Homo sapiens: one gene and its partners. The protein of the gene in region 1 interacts with the protein of each later gene in a pairwise test. Each region holds a gene or a part of one and is shown on either strand. Other genes may lie near its edges.

Region 1 (4,882 bases):
CTAAATCCTGGGTACACACAAACATAAAGATGGAAACAGTAGACACACTGGGCTCTACAAGAGGGGGCGGGAGTGGGGCAAGGGCTGAAAAACTTCCCATTGGGTATGATGTTCACTATCTGCGTGACGGGATCAGAAGCCCAAATCTCAGCATCACACAATATACTCTTGTAACAAACCTGCATGTGTACCCTCTGAATCTAAAATAAAAATGGAAATTTAAAAAAGAAGGTGGGCCAGACGTGGTGGCTCATGTCTGTAATGCCAGCACTTTGGGAGGCCGAGGCGGGTGGATCACCTGAGGTCAGGCGTTCAAGACCAGCCTGGCCAACATGGTGAAACCCCGTCTCTACAAAAACACAAAAATTAGCCGGGTGTGGTGGTGCACACCTGTTATTCCAGCTACTCGGAGGTTGTAGTGAGCCGAGATCGCACCACGGCACTCCAGCCTGGGTGACAGAGCGAGACCCTGTTATCAAAAAAGGAAAGAAAGAAAAGAAAATCCTCTTGCCCAGATTTTGTGTTGAAAAGGACGTCCTGCGCGAACACTGGCCATCACATCGCTGCCCTCAGCACACATCATGCTCCATAGACATGTTTTTCAGTTACCAAAAAAAGTGTCAAAGCAAGTGAATGGCAAGTTGAAAGTGCCTTCAAATCTCTGAGACATGACCTACGGCGTGGGCAAGCTGCTATGAGGATAAATGGGAACACCCTGCTCCTTCACCCTCCTCTTGAACTTCACCTCATTATGTCACCAGGAAATCTCACAACCTCTCAGGGAGGACTCCCCAAAAACTGCCCAGGTCATCAGCAGTCCAGGCATGACACAGTTTCTCCAACAAGGGAGAAATGAGAGGGGTTGGGTAGGAAGTAAAGCCCCATCAAGGAGGCGCTGGTTCCTGGGGAGGGGAGGAGGGAGACTCCTCCCCCATTTCCCTGCACGTCTGAGGGCAGGGGGTTAAGGAAGGGCTCCCTTAAATGCCCAGGCAGTCTACACAGGCACAGGCAGAAAGGGGCTCCAGACGTCCATTGGGCTAAATCGCCAAGGTCCAGAGAGGGGAAGGGATCAGCCACGGGTCCACAGCAAGCAGGGGCCGAGCTGAGTCTAGAACCTGGTCCACATGGAGTCCACTTCACAGCCTGTGGCCTCTTGGTGGGCCCAGGTGGGTCTGGAAGGGGACACACTTGGGTCAGGGACAGGGAAGGTGCTGCAAAGACGCAATGTGGTTGGGCTTTGTCTGGCTGTGGTGGTGGCCAGAGGGAAGGGAGGGAGAGCTGAGAGTAAGGGTCCCTGTCCTTTGAATCTCTGCCATCAGGGGCTCTGCTCCCAAGCTCCAGGCCCTCCCGGATGTAACACAGAGTGTCTATGATCTGTCTTCTCCACTGGGCTGCACCCTGGTGTCCAGCATTCAGTGGTGATCAGAAATTGCACAGAATGAATGAACACACGCCTGCGTTCCAACAGGACCCACCTTCTTGTCCCACGCTTGGCAGCTGCCGACCCCACCAGCCCCCGCACTTGAGAGGTTTTGGGTTTGGGTTCTTTGCATGAATGATGTGATATGTCAACAGTCACCCCTCCGAAAACCACGTTTCCTTTTGTTTTGTAGGAAGCACCTCGTGCCCTGGCACATCCTGTTGACTTCCCATGGGCTACCTGTGGAGTGGGACCCGTGTTCGGGAAGGCGGCTGGCATTGGCGGGCAGAGGTGGCAACCATGACAACTGGGCTGCCTTGGGCGGCGAGCGTACCACACACCAGCGCTGCCCTGAGCTCGTCAGACATGCTTCCTCACTGACTCCTCCAGCGTCCCTGTTGTCATCATGCCCCCTTTACAGATGAGGAAACTGAGGTCCTGAGAGGCCCATGGCTGGCCTGCAGCCACACAGCTAGTGAGCGAGGGGTGTGTCCTCTGAAACCCCGGCTTGGTGCCCTTGGCTGCATGGCAGCCCTGGAGAAGGGACCAAATCCCCTCTGCAGCCATGTGGGTTTACGCCAGGCTCAGGCTCCTGCAAGGCAGGGGCTGCGGTGGCACATCTGTGTGACCAGGGACCAGACCAGGCTGTGCTCAGCATGCTCACCTGTGGGTTCCTTCACTCGGGGAGAAGGGCACATGAGGTGGGGAGGGGGCAATGGGTGATCAGGACAAACATTCCTCAGGGCTGGGTAAGTGGCAGCAAGCTGACCATTACTTAAACATTTAAACAATGTTTTCGAGGGATATTTTTTGACCTATAATAGTTAGTGGTAAGGACACCTCCTGCCTCCAGCCTTGACTCCCTCACCCACTGTGGCCGGGGGCCACCAGAGCAGGCACTCACAACTCACACCCAGCCATGGCCCCCCGACTTGCAGCCACTTCAGGGGCTCCCCTTTTGTTCTGAGTGTGTATCTGGCTCTGCTGCCATGTCCAGCCTTCTGTCTCCCCAACCTCCCATAATCCACGGTGCTGCGGTGCCTGGAAGAAGGCTCACTTCGGCCTTCCAGATTCTGGGATGGTGCCCTGCCCTCTGTGAGGCCTGCCCAGGAAGCGGGTTTCCCTGGGGCTCCTGGCCCACCAGTCAATCTGCATCACCCTGGAAGGTCACCATCTGCTTCCTACCTGCTTCCCCACCAGCCTGGAAGTCCCCAAGAGCAGGGCCAAGGCCTGAGAACACAGGGCAGCGTGTGGCAGAAAAAACTGCTAATCTGAAATTCTGCAGCTGTGGCTTCGGCGGGCAGCCCTGCCACCAGCAGTCCCACTTTGCTGGAAACTGCCGAGCAAATCCAGTATGTTTCATGGGGGGCCGGGTGCGGTGGCTCCCGCCTGTAATCCCAGCACTTTGGGAGGCTGAGGTGGATGGATCACCTGAGGTCAGGAGGTTGAGACCAGGCTGGTCAACATGGTGAAACGCTGTCTCTACTAAAAATATGAAAATTAGCTGGGTGTGGTGGTGGGTGCCTGTAATCCCAGGAGACTGAGACAGGAGAACTGCTTGAACCGAGAAGGTGGGGATTGCAGTGAGCAGAGATTGTGCCACTGCACTCCAGCCTGGGCAACAAGAGCAAAACTCTGTCTCAAAAAAAAACAAAAGAAATAAAAAATAAAAATCAGGTGTGGTGGCATGCGCCTGTGGTCCCAGCTACTCGGGAGACTGAGGCGGGAGGATTGCTTGAGCCCAGGAGTTTGAGGCTGCAGTGAGCTATGATCATGCCACTGCACTACAGTCCAGGCAACAGAGTTTGCCTCTAAAATAAAAAAAAAACCCACCACCACCACCACCACCACCACTACCAACAAAACCAAAGAAAAAGGCTGAGAGGAGAGATGGAAAGAGGATGAGAAAGAGAAAAACAGGGAGACAGACATAGAGACAGAGGCAGAGCCAGACAGGCTGCAGTCTGGATGTGGTCCCCACAATGAACTCCTCCCCTAGCCAAGCCTGGTCCATAGGCCACTGCGAGGCAGGGTCAGGGCTGCCCTGTGGGGAAGGACTTCTATGCCGGGTACTGCCATGTACAAGCAGGAGGGGCGTGCAGCAAGGAGGAAAGGCTGTAGGCAGCGACCCCAAGGGCTGGGCAGAGCGATGAGGCGGGCCGCTCCTGCCTGGCCAGGAGAAAACTCACTAGCCGCTGCCCCTAGAAAGCTATCGTCTGTTAACTTAGCAGGGGCTGCGGATTCCTGGCACCCAAGGGCTGTGATGGACATGATGTGGCCCAGCCGCGGCCCCAGAACCTCCCCGAGGAGGCAAAGCTCCCGCTCGGCCCAGGGTGCTCACCTTCAAGAGGCCGATCTCCTTGACACAGTCCTGCCTCGCCTTGGCGTCCATCATCTCAAAGATCTTGGGCGGGAGGAAAAAGAGAAATAGAGTGGTTACAATCTGTGTCCAGTGACCCAAAGGAGGCCACGGGGTCTGCTTTCCAGTCCCGGCTCTCCCACCTCCTCACCAAGGGACTCTGTGACCCCCCCCTGCACTCCCAGCCCCTGTAGGGCTTGCTCACTGTGGGTCCCCCCAGCACTGTCCCACCACAAAACCCATCGTGGCACTAAAGAACCAAGACAGAGAGCCCAGGTGAGCCCCTCCCCAGAAGATGGAGAGGGCGGGCCAGGCACAGTGGCTCACACCTGTAATCCCAGCGAGGCTGAGGTGGGTGGATCACTTGAGGTCAGGAGTTCGAGACCAGCCTGGCCAACATGGTGAAACCCCGTCTCTACTAAAAATATAAAAATTAGCTGGGTGTGGTGGTGCACGCCTGTAGTCCCAGCTACTCAAGAGACCTAGGCAGGAGAATCGCTTGAACCCGGGAGGCAGAGGTTGCAGTGAGCTGATCACGCCACTGCACTACAGCCTGGGTGATAGACTGAGACTCTATCTCAAAAAAAAAACAAGATCAAGAGAGAAACTGGTCCTTTTTTGGACAGAGAGGACCCTGCTACTCCTCCAGCGCCCTGAAGCTGCGGGTGTTCTCTCCCCATTTCCCCAACGCCATTCTCTCTCCCGGCCCTCCTCTGCCCAGGCTCTCAATCTTGTTCTTTAAGGACAAGTAAGCAAATCAAGGGGCTTGGGAAGCTTTGCTGGAGGATTTAAAGCCATTTCCTCCGGCAAAGCTGTGTTCAGACGGGCCCAGCGGCTCTCATGGACATGGCTCCTGTCCTGACTTTGCCGCTTGACCTACTTCCTCCATTTAGGAGGGACGCAGAAGGCAGGAAGCCCAGAACTGTGGAGCAACCGCAGGCGCAAGGATGGGTGGACATGGTATGAACCTCAGCTCCCCCAAGACTCATGCTGGGGCCCTGGCGGTTATGAGATTTTCCTCATCTGAGAGATGAAATGACAATCCCCACCCACGGGACTGTTGAGAGGCTCCATGTGCTCCTTGCATGACCCAGTACACAGCA
Region 2 (4,882 bases), on another chromosome or scaffold:
GGGCCGTGGCGAGCAGGCTGCAGGCTGCATGTCAGCCCCACTGGCCCCTCACAGGGCCCCCTTGGGCAGGTACAACTTCGGTGGCTGTGTGCAGGGGCCCAACTCCCTCAGAAACCCGACAGGCACTAAGGTTTGTTGGTGTGATCTTTAATACATGGCTTTATGTCCTTAAATTAAGGTAGAAAAGCTTGCTTCATGTGAAATCTGAGAAGTCAACAATGTCAACATCAGTTTACAGATGGGCCAGCGCTATCTTAAGCACCTTTCTAAAGCTGTACCTGTGTTAGAGCAGAATAAGGAACAAGCAGAACAAATGTGATTTTCCAATTTTGGTTTCCAACATGTCACTGGCTTTCATATGTGAGTTCTCCTTTTCGGTGTCTTCTGGATTTGAAAAAAGAAGTTGTATCTCACAAATCAACATCAGAAATCCCAAATTTCTACTCTAGTATGTTACAGAAGCTTAAAGTTAAATGAGGCATCTTTTAGTTTGGCTCACTAAATGTCTCTAAAATCTCAATATAGCAGTATACTTTACAATAAATCTTCAGAGTCCTAACGACAGTGTCCAATATATTCATGCATTTAAATCACATATCTGAGGACCTATCAGCAGAGTACCTATTACGGATACAGCATTGTGCTAGGTTCTCAAAGGATCCAAAATGAACTCAGGTCACATTTGCCCTCTAGGATCTGACAATTTACATTAGGAGCGATTAGGAGAGTCCTGAAAATAAACAACCACATTTCAATGTGGCAGCTGTTAAGTTTCGGAGGAGGATCTGCAGGGTGACTTGAGCACAATAAAGCCACACACAAAAATAAGTAAATATTAGGCATCACATGGTAAGTGCCAGAAAAGAGTAATGTTATTACTTAGTGCCCAAGTGATCGGAAGAATAGATAACTCCTAGGCTGGGCACGGTGGCTCACGCCTGTAATCCCAGCACTTTGGGAGGCTGAGGCAGGTGGATCACGAGGTCAGGAGATCGAGACCATCCTGGCTAACATGGTGAAACCCCGTCTCTACTAAAAAAAATACAAAAAAATTAGCCGGGTGTGGTGGCGGGCACCTGTAGTCCCAGCTACTCGGGAGGCTGAGGCAGGAGAATGGCGTGAACCCGGGAGGTGGAGCTTGCAGTGAGCCGAGATGGCGCCACTGCACTCCAGCCTGGGCAACAGAGCGAGACTCCGTCTCAAAAAAAAGAAAGAAAAAAAAAAAGAAAAGATAACTCCTAAATCTGGGAGAAGGAGAGAGAATGGGGTAATAAAAACAGAAATACAGTGTTTTCCAGTTTGAAAAAGCGTTTTACCATACAGGATTTCGCATGTGCGTCAGGAGGGCCAACGTTATTCTTCTATTACAGAAGATGAGGAAAACCCCTCAAGAGTGTTATCCAAGGTGTTAGAACTGGAGCCTGAGATTCAAAGCAAGGTTTTCTGACTCTAAATCCAACTTCTCTCTGCTACGCTATGTAAACTGAGGCGGCTTACAGGCCAAGGTAATATTTGAATTGAGCTTTAAAAACCGATAGGAGAGACAGGATTTTACTAGAAGGAGTTTGGAAATGGGGTAAGGAATGGTAGGAGGCTAGGATGGAGAAGGAGCCGCAGTGAAATGGCAGAGATGAGAATGGGAAGGTGCTTTAGGAGGGAATGATGTGATCAGTTTGACACAGCACATGTTTTCAGTGAGGGTGAAGAGCAAGAGAAGGCTGGAAGGGCGGTTTAGAAACAGACAGCGAACTGAAAGAGAGAGGAGAGCGGGGCCTCACTCCTCCAAGGCAGCATGGTACAGTGGAAAGATCGTGGCCAGGCCATGTCCAAATTCCAGATCCAGGCTCTTGTCTCCTAGTTCTATGACCTTACGTACATTAACAATTCTAAAGGCCCATTTTTCTCATATAAAAGTAGAAATGACAATACCTTCTCAGAGCTGGTCTCAGTGTTAAATGAGATAAAGTTCGGAAGTGCCCAGCACACACCGGAGGCAGTAAACAAGCCCTAGCTCCTTTCTTCCCAGCAGGAGGGGCTTTCCCAGGCCATAGCTCCTGCCCACCCCATTCCTTCTCCCTGTGGTGCCTCCTCTGCACCTGGAAGTCCTGGTTTAGGAAGCCGGTTGGCTCAAGGGAAGGCGGTTACATGAAAGCTGTGGACAGGGAGATGGGTCGGGTCAGACCGTGCATACTAGACACTCAGTGAAGGGCTTTGCCTTGATTCTAGGCCCATGACAAGGGAGCTGAAGTCTCTAAGCAGGAGAGAGGGTGAGAAGTTACGTACTGAGATCAGCCCACGTGGGCAGATTGGAGCAAGGAGCTGTGGCAGCTCTGACAAGGTGAAGAACTCAGAAGTGGATGTCAGGAGACCCCACTGGAAAGTGTGGTCAGCTACTAATGACCATGTAGCCTTGGGCAAATCACTTTCATCCCTGAGTTGAGGTTCCCATTTGTAAAACATGAGGCCGACCCAACAGCAACCTCACAGTGTAGCTGCAATAGAAACTAAATGAGAGATGGAGTGCCCGGATGGCCTAACTACAAATGCCTCCCAGACTTTAGGCAACAAGTCATACGTGAGAACGACCAAGTTCTGCATCCACAGCTACCGAAACATATGTTTATGTGCACATAAATTGAAAGAAGCCATCGGTATTTAAGTTCCCTCAAGAGGCTCTCCAAACTTTGACTTTGCTTGCAATTATTTTTGAAGCCATTTTTCGGTCCTAGAGTATAATCGGACAAATCAGGTGCTGTATGAAGCCTTGGGAACTGTCTAGACCAGGAGTTTTAAAACAGTGACTGGGGGCGCCCTAACATTCTGCAGAGGCCCACAGAGGAATGTGAAATGCACGTAAGGCTCTCTGGGTCTCCTCGACCTTTTTTCAAGCAGCTCTGCTCCCCTTTGATCTGCTGGACATACTGGGGGTTCCGCTTGGGAGCACGTTTGAACAAAGCCTGCCATGCGGTTAAGGGCTTGCTTTGGAGACAGGCAGACCCTGGCTTGCATCCTGGCTCTGGCACTGAGTAACTCTGTGAACTCCTCAAATTCTTCATCCATAAAGAGGGAAAAACAACACGTTTCTTGGGACAATTAATGGGATAACATTTACAAAGTCCTTTACATAGTGCTGGCACACAGCAAGCTCTGGGTAAATAACACTATTACTGGCCACGTACCTAACCCCAAGAGACACTCCTGGTCATCTGTCCCATTCATTCCACCACCAAAAAAGGAGAGGACTTACAAGAAGGAGCACAGGGACACAAGGACACAGTGGGGCCAGGGTGCTGAAGGTGGAGCTTTTGTGGGGAGGAACAGAGGGGAAGCACTTGCTTCCACATACTGGGATTTTGGGGTTCCACTTTTCCCCCTTGGCCCTTCATTTCCTCTGAGGTTGCAACTCCTGCCCCAGGTATGGTGACACACTAGACCCTTCTTCCTCTTGGAAGTGGGGCTCAGCTCCCAAGCCTTTTGAAACCAACCAAGAACCAGGGTGGGACCCAGGCCACCTGACTCCAGGTGAAGACCTCCTCCATTTTACAGACGGACCTGCCGAGTCCTCCAGGGAGGAGAACGATGTCGTGGCTGGGAGATAACTCTCTAACTTGTAAAAGTGCAGAGGAATTGTTCGAGTGTGTCCTCTTTGGGGAGATTCTGGGGACTCTAGTGGGTGCAGCTGTCATCAAGAAAGCCACTGAAAAGAGACTTCAGAGTTTCAGAGATGTCGACCCTGCTCAGCTGGCATGGCTGCCACACTGTGTGCTTCATCTATGGGAAGCTGAATAACTGAACTGAATATTAAAAAGAATAACTAGAACAGGGCTTGGCATGGATGTAAATGGAGCGCAATGAATTTGTTGAATGAATAAATGAATGAGACTGAACACCTGACAGATAAACATGTTTCCAATGTACATACTATGATAAATCTAACCCAAAATCCAATGTGTGAAAAGAGACTTCATTTTATATTTGCATTACTGCTATGAATAATAAATTAATTGTCTCATTAAAATCCTTCTAAAAGTGCCCTGCTAGCAGCTAAGGCCTCCTCCATGAGCCTTGGCTTTGCCTGGCTCCACAGGGCAGAGGGGAAAGATCTTTTGAGAGGAGGCCTGGGTTTACTCCGGCCTCTGCTATTCGTGAGGTCAGGTAACTGAGCTTCGGTTCCCATCATTATAGGAATCATTATATCTGCCCTGACTACCCCACAGGTATATGGTAAAAATCCCGAGAAGACAGATGTGAAAGCACTTTCTAAACCATAAGTGCAACACTCATGGTCGAGCTATAATGATGCTTATTGGCGGCTCCCTCACCCTTCCCACCTGGAATCTTCTCCAGGGAGGAGAAATACAGGAGCGAATCTTTCCTGTAGTTCAACATCTCTGCTTTGCAGAGCCCTCCCCTCTACCCCTTCCAACTCTGCATTTGCTGTTGCCCTGATCATTCACATTTGTCATTTAATTACCGTTCACAGACAGGCGGTTAAGTGGAGTGTTCAAAGCTCAGACAGACCTGCACTGGAACCCTACCTGTGGCACTTCCTACTTGAGAGACCTTGGGCAGGTCACCTCGACATCTCTAGGCTCATCTACAAAATGGGGATGACGGTAACTCATACAGACATGCTGCAAAGAGCAAATCAGGTCTTTCATGTAAAGTGCTCAGTGTGCTGCCTTGCACACAGTTAAGTGCTCAAACAACTGTAGCTCTTACGATTGCTGAATACTGCTCCGTTTCCTGAATTTGTCCTGTCTCCTCCCCAGCTGGATCTGAATCCCTGAGAACAAGGTCCCTGTCCTATCCATTTCTGTGACTATCTCTGACCCCACTCCCATTCCAGAAAAGTGCTGAGTTCAGAGTATCTTCTATAAAG
Region 3 (4,882 bases), on another chromosome or scaffold:
ATCCATCACATACAGTAGTGTGAGTAATTGATCTATTTTGAGAAGGCCTGAAATCTGATGGATCTCAAATATATACTTTATTCATGCTAGTGTTTTGCTACGTCCTAATGCCTCCAGGATGTTTCCTGGATTTGTGTTTAGGTTTCTTCATGTACACCTTTTTGACTCTTCAGTCTTCTAGGTGGTGCAATACAGCAGTCTGCTATTTGTACAGTATTTTCCCCATGGTCATCATTATCAGTTCTAGGCTTGGTAAAATCCTTCAGGGAATGACCAACCACCTCTTCCTGACTGTAGTACAATGGAAATGCAAGCATATGCTTTCTAGACATTCAACTTAGCTTAAATATGGTATAAGAATATCACTTTCCTTTAAGAAAGTCAGTTTATTGTGTAAGGTAGTGATAGAGAAAAGAAGTCCAAGCAGATTCTGCTTGGTAAGTCTCATCAATATGGAGGTGACTTAGGATAGTAATAGGTATAATTACAGATGATTTTTGAAATAATTCAGGACTTGTCTTCTATAGTTCCTTGATCCCCAGTATTACTCCCACGTGTACAAAAGTTTGATTCTGGAGCCTCCATTCCATTTAAAAAGAATCACTTCCTTAGTAAGTTAAAGCAGCCAGTAAGGTGAAGAGAACTGCAAGATGATTAGTCTTGGTTTCCTTATACTCTTGGGAAGCCTTTTTTTTTCCTACTACACTGCAGACAGCTTAATTCCTACCTTCTGTGTGTTTGCTGTATCTCTGCCTTTATTGCATTCTCCTTGCTTGCCTGTATTCACTGAATCAAGTAATGTCCTTTCTTATCTGTTTATTTCTGCTTATCACAAATTCACACTGAAAAGATAATTTTGATTGGATATATATATATATATATATATATATATATATATGAGCAACTTCTCATGGGAGACTTTTGAGGCTTTCTCTTTTCCTTCAGCATTGCTTCAGAAAATAGCCTTTGCAGTTAATATTAGGTTCCATTTGTATTAGAATTCTGATGCCCAAGGCTTGGATGTCTCTGCTAGCAAATACCTGAATGAGCTAGCTGCTCCTGTGAAACTAGGCATTTGATGGAATACAAAAAGAATCAACTATCTGATATTTGTTCCCAAACTTCTTTATAGTCTGGAGGGGATGATGAGATTTGCCTATAAAGAAGTAAGTGAGGTTAATTACAGAATAAAGGTGTAGCATGAAGATTACTGTAAAGTAATTGAAGGTAGTGGTGGTGATAGGGCCTGAGCTTTGTTGGTTTCTTGCAAAGTACTTATGCCTGTGTGTTCTCATTTACTGTTTTTATGCCTTCTCTCCTAGGATTTTCTCATGTGCCCTGAAATCCATGTAACTACAAGGGCTCCTCTTTATCACCATAAGTGCCACCCTGACTTAAAACCACTCAGAGCTAAAAAATCAAGGCAAAATGGATGCTGCGGTGACAGATGATTTTCAACAAATTCTGCCTATTGAACAGCTGCGCTCTACTCATGCTAGCAATGACTACGTGGAACGGCCTCCAGCCCCCTGTAAACAGGCCCTCTCCAGCCCTTCCCTTATTGTGCAAACCCACAAGTCTGATTGGTCTCTGGCTACCATGCCTACTTCTCTCCCCCGCAGTCTCAGCCAGTGCCATCAACTGCAGCCCTTGCCTCAGCATCTGAGCCAATCTAGCATTGCCAGCTCAATGTCCCATAGCACCACTGCCTCTGATCAAAGGCTCTTGGCCAGCATTACACCCTCACCTTCAGGCCAATCCATCATCCGAACCCAACCTGGAGCAGGGGTCCACCCAAAGGCTGATGGTGCTCTGAAGGGAGAAGCTGAGCAATCTGCAGGGCACCCTAGTGAGCACCTCTTCATCTGTGAGGAATGTGGGCGCTGCAAGTGCGTCCCCTGCACAGCAGCTCGCCCTCTCCCCTCCTGCTGGCTGTGCAACCAGCGCTGCCTTTGCTCTGCTGAGAGCCTCCTCGATTATGGCACTTGTCTCTGCTGTGTCAAGGGCCTCTTCTACCACTGCTCCACTGATGATGAAGACAACTGTGCTGATGAGCCCTGCTCTTGTGGGCCTAGTTCTTGCTTTGTCCGCTGGGCAGCCATGAGCCTCATCTCCCTCTTCCTACCCTGCCTGTGCTGCTACCTGCCTACCCGTGGATGCCTCCATCTGTGCCAACAGGGCTATGATAGCCTCCGGCGACCAGGCTGCCGCTGCAAGAGGCACACCAACACTGTGTGCAGAAAGATCTCTTCTGGTAGTGCACCCTTCCCCAAGGCCCAGGAAAAGTCTGTATGACCTTCCAACAAGGTGGATCCAGAGCTTTTCTCCTTCGAGTCCCCAACAGCAAAGCATAGGCCTCATCTTTGGAGAGGGGGAGGAGTGATAAACTAGCCAAAGTTAGGGCCTCTCTTTTGTTCCTGCAGTGTCAGGGGAATGACCAAGTACATCCTGGTGCAGGATGCCTTGTTCTTTCTCACAGTATCTATCCCACTCCTCTTCAGTCTTTACACCCTGCCAGCTCAGCCTTTATGGTTGTCATGGCAAATTCAGGTGATATATGGGTATGAGGTTTGAACACTGAGGACTGACAGGGCCAGCAACGTGGAGGTTTAGGGGCTCCCCAATGTAATACCTCTCGATGCAGGCTCTGATCGTCACTCTGTTTTCTGCTGTGCCTTTGGAAGCTTTCTTCTAAGATGGTTTTCACAGGTACATGTGGAACAGCGTTCAACCTTCCAGGGAATACGACCCCTTCTCCCTGTTACTGCCCTTCTCTTCTTTATTCCTCTCTCCTCTTTCATTATTCTGTTCTGTATTCCTTTCCCCTTCATTCTCACCCTGTCTGCTTTTACTTTTTCTCTTTCTTCCTCCCTTTCTCCTTCTCCCCTCCTTCTTTTTCAGACTGATCCTTTCTCTGCCTGTATTTCTATCTCATTTGATCTATATTTGTCTCTCTCTACCTGTCCCTTTTTCTCTAACATGTCCAAAAGTGCTGTTTTTCCATAGATGTTTCCTTAGATGCCAAACTTTGCTATGCTATACTATTTACTAATTTTTATTAAGGGAAATGGATTACTGTAATGAACTGATCACTAGCAATAGTGTGTATCCCGATGTGTGTGTGTGCTCACAACCACTCTCACCTGTTCGTGAGCGCATGAGGCGAAGTTATCTTATATTTCCAGGTTTAACTAGTTGGAGTTTTTCTCCCTTTCTCAATAATCAACTTATAGTGCTGACAGATTCCACTAGCATGCTGAGTAGGATAGTAAATCAGGATGCTCATAACTTTGTATGTCTGACCCAAGTGCCAAAGGCAGACGTGCTTTATAGCTAAATGAACAAAGCAAAGGATACAGAGGTATGTTCTCTCTTAGAAGCTAACTTCCCTGAGACTGCATGGCTCAGGCGTTAATAATGGACATAAAAAGTCATAAAACGTTAGAGCTGGAAGGAATCTTAACTATTAATCTAGTTCAATGCCCTTATTTTACAGATGGGAAAACTGAGGCCTGGAGGTAGGAAGGGACTTGCCCCCAAGGCCGCACACTGAGTTAACAGCAGAATTGAGACTGGAATATAGGCCTTCTGACTCCTAGTTCAGTATTCTTACCCCTGTACCACATTGAGTCATGGGACTTTTTCCTAGGGCTCTATTAACAGTGACAGAAAGCCATTCCCATTCAATTACTTTTCAGGAACCATGCCTAGTTAGTGTGGTGGTCTTTCTCCAGTGCATGGTGGGTAGCTAATTAACTATCAGGTGTTGAGGCTGCCCCCAGTGGACATCACCTTTGGCTCTGTCACCTTGTAGAAGCTCAAGTGTGGAAAAGAAAAGCTTAAAGAAGCCCTAACCAAGCTGTATCTTCGCCATTGCATCTACTCTTTGCTGCACACACTGTGCTTGCTCCTGGCTTTGTCTGCAATGGCAGCTGCCTGAGAACTTAAATTTCAGCAACAGTGAAAAACTGAGATGAAAGATGTATAATGTAGAGAACTGACTTCTCTCTTAAAAAGTACAGAGAGCCTGTGCTGTGAACCCCCTTCAATGGGAAAAAGCTGCAGTGGTGATGGCAGGCTCCTAAAGACTGCTGCTAAAAGACACAAGAATTATACAGTTTCCCTCTATAAGTGAATCCAAAATTCACTGACGAATTCAGAGATTGAGGGCACTTGCTTGAAATCAAGGTGCTCCAACTTAGTTTAAGACCTCCAGACTCTAACTTTATAGATCATCTCTTCTAGAGTGTGCATGGATGTGTGTTGCAGGGTGGAGAAGTGGGGAGAAGTGTATAGTAGTACACGGGGGGAAGAGGGGACCTCCATGTCCCTTTGTTGGATACATATTACAGAAATATGTGCCACTCACTTTTTGTTGGTTCTGAATCTTCCTGAAGTGTACTGACATTTGGGCTGCACAGAGCCCCACACCTTCACTTACACCTCCTCTTCTAGAATTGCTTTGCTCTATTTTTGTATATATAAATATGTTATGATGATTATTAATAATGTTAATGATATTGCTGCAAATGGTGCCATATATAAGGTTAGGCTTCTTGGAACATTTATAAACCCAAACCAATACCTGTAACCTCTTATGTTGCTTTCAGATCCTTCAATTTTAAGTAACTTTTTAATCTTACAAGTCTGCTTGATTGTACTTTACACTTATCTACCCTGAAAAGCTCTGCCCAGTTCTCTGGGTCAAGCTGGATGGTGATGAGTAGCAACACACACTTCTCTGCTTCTGCCTGAAATGTGCTTAGAGCTCAGTTATCTAAGGATTCTCTGACACTAGTGCATTGTTCCTGGAGCTAAATTATTCTATGGATGTTTGCTTATTAGTTTCAGGCCCCAAAATAACACGAGCCCCTCCTCCTTG
Region 4 (4,882 bases), on another chromosome or scaffold:
ATTTTAAACTTTCATTATTATTATATCTGCTATGGTGATCTGTAATCAGTGATCTTTGAGGTTACTATTGTAATGTCTCGGGGGGCGCCACAAACTTTGCCCATACAAGACAGCAAACTTCGTCGATAAATGTTTGTGTTCTGACTGCTCCACAAACTGGTCATTTTCCCATCTCTCTCCCTCTCCTTGGGCCTCCCTATTCTCTGAGACACAAAAATATTAAAATGAGGCCAATTAATGACCCTACAATTGCCTACAAATTTTCAAGTGAAAGGAAGAGTTTCACATCTCTCACTTTAAATCAAAAGCTAGAAATGATTAATCTTAATGAGGAAGGCATGACTAAAGCTGAGATAGGCCAAAAGCTAGGCCTCTTGTGACAAACAGTCAAGCTGTGAATGCAAAAGAAAAGTTCATGAAGGAAATCAGAAGTGCTACTGCAGTGAATACATAAATGATAAGTAAGTGAATCAGCCTTATTGCCGATATGGAGAAAGTTTGACTGGTTTGTGTAGAAGATCAAACCAGACACAACAGACCCTCAAGCCAAAGCCTAATCAAGATCAAGATCCTAACTTTCTTTAATTCTATGAAGGCTGAGAGAGATGAGGAAGCTGCAGAAAAAAAGTTTGAAGCTGGCAGAGATAGTCTGAGGTTTAAGAAGAGAAGCTGTCTCTATAACATAAAAATGCAAGGTGAAGCAACAAGCCATCAATATTGAGGCAAGACCCACCACCAGCAAGAAGATTACAACTTGCTGAAGGCTCAGATCATCATTAAGGTTTTTTTTTTAGTAATAAAGTATTTTAAATTAAGTTAGATATATTGTTTTTTAGGCATAATGCTATTGCACACTTAATAGACTACAGCATAGTGTAAACACAACTTTTTTGTTTTCTTTTCTTTCTGAGATGGAGTCTTGCTCTGTTGCCAGGCTGGAGTCCAGTGGTGTGATCTCAGCTCACTGCAACCTCCACCTCCCGGGTTCAAGTGATTCTCCTGCCTCAGCCTCCCGACTAGCTGGGATTACAGGCGCACACCACCACACCTGGCTAATTTTTGTATTTTTGGTGGAGACGGGGTTTCACTATGTTGGCCAGGATGGTCTCGATCTCCTGACCTCATGATCCACCCACCTTGGCCTCCCAAAGGGCATTACAGGCGTGAGCCACCATGCCCAGCCAAATACAACTTTTATATGCACTGGGAAATGAAAAAAAAGTGTTTGACTTGCTTTATTATGGTATTAGCTTTATTGTGGTGGTCCAAAACTGAACCTACACTATCTCTGGGGCATACCTGCATAATACTTTTTTTTCCCATAAAACATGGATATTTTATTCCAGCTCTAGGAAATGGAAAAAAAGAGGGAAACACATCTTTCTACACACCATTCTAATTTAACTGACATTAATTAGGGAAAGCTAGAGCAGAAATATATGATTATACATATAAATATGTATGTCTTTATACATACATATATGCATTTTCAGATTTTAGTCTCACTGGAGTTCATGTCTTTTTTTTTTTTTTTTTAACTATGGGCCCCTAAAGCTCATTAAATTCAAGCTAATACTTCTACCTAAGTCTCCTCATCAATCATTTAATATTGTTTGCATTGCATTCACAGTTTGTGTGTTAACCACTTATGCAATTTATCAAATTGCACATTTGGAGAGGTAAGGGAAAAACTTGGTTTAAATAATACTCTATGTATCAGTTACCCATTACATGATTTTTTTCATCATTATTTGCAACTTCATACATCTTGTAGTTTTCTATGTAGTCTCTCTATGCAGTCTGCTTCAGGTTCCAGTGCTATACTTGTCTATATGTTCTGGGTGGGACCACCTGTGATCCATGAACTTGGGGTCAGGCATAAACTGTGTAGCACCTGAGGTGGATTCTGATTTGGTGTTTGCTTCAGAGCTGAGTTCTGTTGGCAAGGGCACTGAGCATTTCAAGATGTGAGTTGTTTTTGCAGGTACTTCTATTTCGGCGGGGGATCCTAGCTTAATTTTTTTTCTTTAGGTTTAGGGAGTGACTCTTTTTTTGCTGCTTTTTGTCCACAATGATTTAACTGCTTCAAAAATTTGCTGGCTTGTAGCATATACCTTTTTCCCTGTTACCTTAGCAATTATTACTGACTGAACTGGGTAGCAAACAGTTGCTCATAAAGTGGCCAGTCCCAGAGGATAAGTAATTTTCTTAAACTTAAAACCTTTTCTCGCTGAAACCAAGCCCACCAATCCTGAAACCGTAATAACTCCCATTTTCGGAAGAAAATCTCGAGGAGGATTCTTCAGATAGACATAAGCATCTTTCCCAAATTGTACTGTATCCATTATCCCATTTTTCACAAAGACATAAACATCCTTGCACCAGCCAGTATAATGACCAGTTGCAGTGTAGATGGAAGCAAAGCCCATTTATAAATGACCAGGCTGCTCTTCAACATATTTAGACTGGAGCGGTGGTGCAGTATATACGGGGAGCTGCTCTGGTTTCACTAGCTGCTTTTTGGATTCCTCTTCTTTGGTTCCATGTACATTTACAGATGCATGTATCAGACTTGCAGGCATGGTTGTCAGTTTTCCCATCTACTAGCAGGGTGAAAATCTGAGACATTGACAATGGTAAATGCTGGGGAGAATGAGGAGCAACAGGAAGTCTCATTCATTGCTGGGTGATGAAATAACCTGCACAACAAATGCCCGTGATACGAGTTTACCTGTGTAACAAACCTTCACATGTACACCTGAACCCTGATGACCGCCATGTCTATGACCCTTTTGGCCAAGGTTTTCAGACGACACCTACATAACATTAATAACTAATTACCGAGCACTTCCTATGTGCTAAGTGTGTATGTGGATCATCTCATTTAATCTAGGCAGCCCTTGGAGATAGACACGCATCATCCCCATTTATAAGATAGGGTGACAGAGACACAGAGTGGTTTATTAACTTGCATAAGATGACACAACTGGGAAATGGCAGATATGGGACATGAACTCAGATTACCTGATGCTGGAACCCCTTTTCTTAATCACTACCCAAGGAACAGGGCTGTGAACTTGACTCTACGTCTATGAGATGGGAGTCAGTGACTCTTTCTGGGTCTGAATACTGATTTTGAATTCTGGCTCTACTTCTTTCCTTTTGTGTAATCATGGCTAAGTTACTTAATCTTTCTTAAACTGTATTCATTTATAAAATGAGCATTTGGATCATTAGGAAGCTCAGCTGAGACAAAGAAACAATTAGTCAGAGATCAATCGTCAGTTTTTTAAAAAAAATCAGCTCAAGCATAATCGTTTGTCAAATCAGTTGTCTAAATAATTATTTCAGTCAAATGCATTTTTACTAATTGAAATTGTTTTTTTCACATAGAAATGGCCTCACTCCAGTCTTGCTCGAAGTCTGCTGGGTAAACTGCAAGTTCTAACAGACTAAGAGGAAGTGCTTCAGTCACCTAAGGTCGTATTTTATTTTGTGCTTTTCCAAGCAGTGGGATTATGTAATCACCTCGCATTGTAGCAGTCTTGCTGTTCATAATCTTGCTATTCATGCAGTGGGGTATAGAGAGGCATTAATTTAGGTCTTCATGGATCTCCTGAATCCGCAATGATCATTTGAAAGAAGAATTCCGAGCAGCTTAGTGGTAGAGATAAGACCCAACATTACTTTGCTGATGGAATGGTGGAGGTGTCCTTTTCTGCTGGTCCCCAGATAAGTAAGGAGACCCCAGGGGTGAAAAAACCACAGGAACACAGCTCATCCCCAGGAAACTGGTGGACAAATGAGCAAAGATATATGTGCTAGGGGGTTTAACATAATGCTGTGGAATAAACAGGGAATTGGTTGAATAAATTATTATACACCCATACCCATACAATGAAAAACTTTGCAGTCATTAAAATTGATGTTTTTCTATAATTAATAATATTGAGCGTTACTGATAATATACCATTAAGTGTAACAGAAGAGGTTAAGAATAATTATGTAGACTAGATTTTCATTATAAATACATATGTATGTTTTTTATCTAGGGAAAATGTTAGATGACTATATGCCAATATTTTAGAAGTGGTTATCTCTAAGTGGTGAGATTTTTGAATATTGAAAAAACGCTTTTTTTCTAAGTGCTTAGCTGTGTTCTCTAACTTTTCTATAATAAAATAATTGTATTGCTTATTAAAATTGGACAGTTAGAAAATGAATGAAGTTGGTGGATGAGAGGTAAAAGGTATGAGAGGAATTTAGAAAGTAAGCCAAGCTGAGTAGGATAAGCAAACTATGCAACTAACTTTTTTGGGGAAGGTGTTCCCTACCTGAGAAATAAGCACGTAAAAGCTGGATGAGAATGGGTTTCTGGGGAATGACCCAAATCTGTTAGACCCCCGGGGTTGGGTACATCAGGGAACAATAATTGTTCCTCCATACTTCTTCCTCTCAATTTTCCATTGTAATATCACATTTTTCTGGGTACATGACTACCTGGAATATTGGTCACATTTTTAGCCTTTCTGGTGATTAAGTCCAGGCCAGTGTGGGAGTAAGCAACCTTTAGGAAGCATCCGTCCGGAGTTTTCTTTTCCTCTCCTCCATCTTGCTATGTGGAATGCAGACATGATCCCTAGAGCTCTAGCTGCCATCTTGAATACTGAGGACGAGGGCCACACCTAATAGGGAAGGGGCCTGGGTTTCAGAGCTTCCACACCCATCCTGGATTACTTCACATCCAGACTTTTGGTGGAGAGCTAAATAAACTTCCACCTTGCTGAATGAACTGTGAGGCTTTTTTTTTATTATTTATGAAAAACAGAAAAGAGAAAAGGAAAGAAAGGGAGAATGAGAAGATAAAGAAGAAAAGATCTAA

What was found. The genes of interacting proteins can lie anywhere in the genome.
Region 2: the proteins of NEK6 (region 1) and BEND7 interact in binary tests that used the Homo sapiens proteins (3 or more experiments, as listed by UniProt).
Region 3: the proteins of NEK6 (region 1) and SPRY3 interact in binary tests that used the Homo sapiens proteins (3 or more experiments, as listed by UniProt).
Region 4: the proteins of NEK6 (region 1) and SH3RF2 interact in binary tests that used the Homo sapiens proteins (3 or more experiments, as listed by UniProt).

What each region holds. Positions count from the first base shown.
Region 1 is NC_000009.12:124,312,865-124,317,746, reverse strand, and holds part of NEK6 (serine/threonine-protein kinase Nek6), read right to left. Parts: intron 3,825-4,882; coding exon 3,762-3,824; intron 1-3,761. UniProt on the Homo sapiens protein: Protein kinase which plays an important role in mitotic cell cycle progression. Required for chromosome segregation at metaphase-anaphase transition, robust mitotic spindle formation and cytokinesis.
Region 2 is NC_000010.11:13,518,275-13,523,156, forward strand, and holds part of BEND7 (BEN domain-containing protein 7), read right to left. Parts: intron 385-4,882; exon of another isoform or gene 279-384; intron 1-278.
Region 3 is NC_000023.11:155,772,444-155,777,325, forward strand, and holds part of SPRY3 (protein sprouty homolog 3), read left to right. Parts: intron 1-1,322; 5' UTR 1,323-1,428; coding exon 1,429-2,295; 3' UTR 2,296-4,882. UniProt on the Homo sapiens protein: Inhibits neurite branching, arbor length and neurite complexity. Inhibits EGF-mediated p42/44 ERK signaling. Negatively regulates the MAPK cascade, resulting in a reduction of extracellular matrix protein accumulation.
Region 4 is NC_000005.10:145,994,936-145,999,817, reverse strand, and holds part of SH3RF2 (E3 ubiquitin-protein ligase SH3RF2), read right to left. Parts: intron 3,481-4,882; exon of another isoform or gene 3,394-3,480; intron 2,602-3,393; exon of another isoform or gene 1,318-2,601; intron 1-1,317. UniProt on the Homo sapiens protein: Has E3 ubiquitin-protein ligase activity. Acts as an anti-apoptotic regulator of the JNK pathway by ubiquitinating and promoting the degradation of SH3RF1, a scaffold protein that is required for pro-apoptotic JNK activation.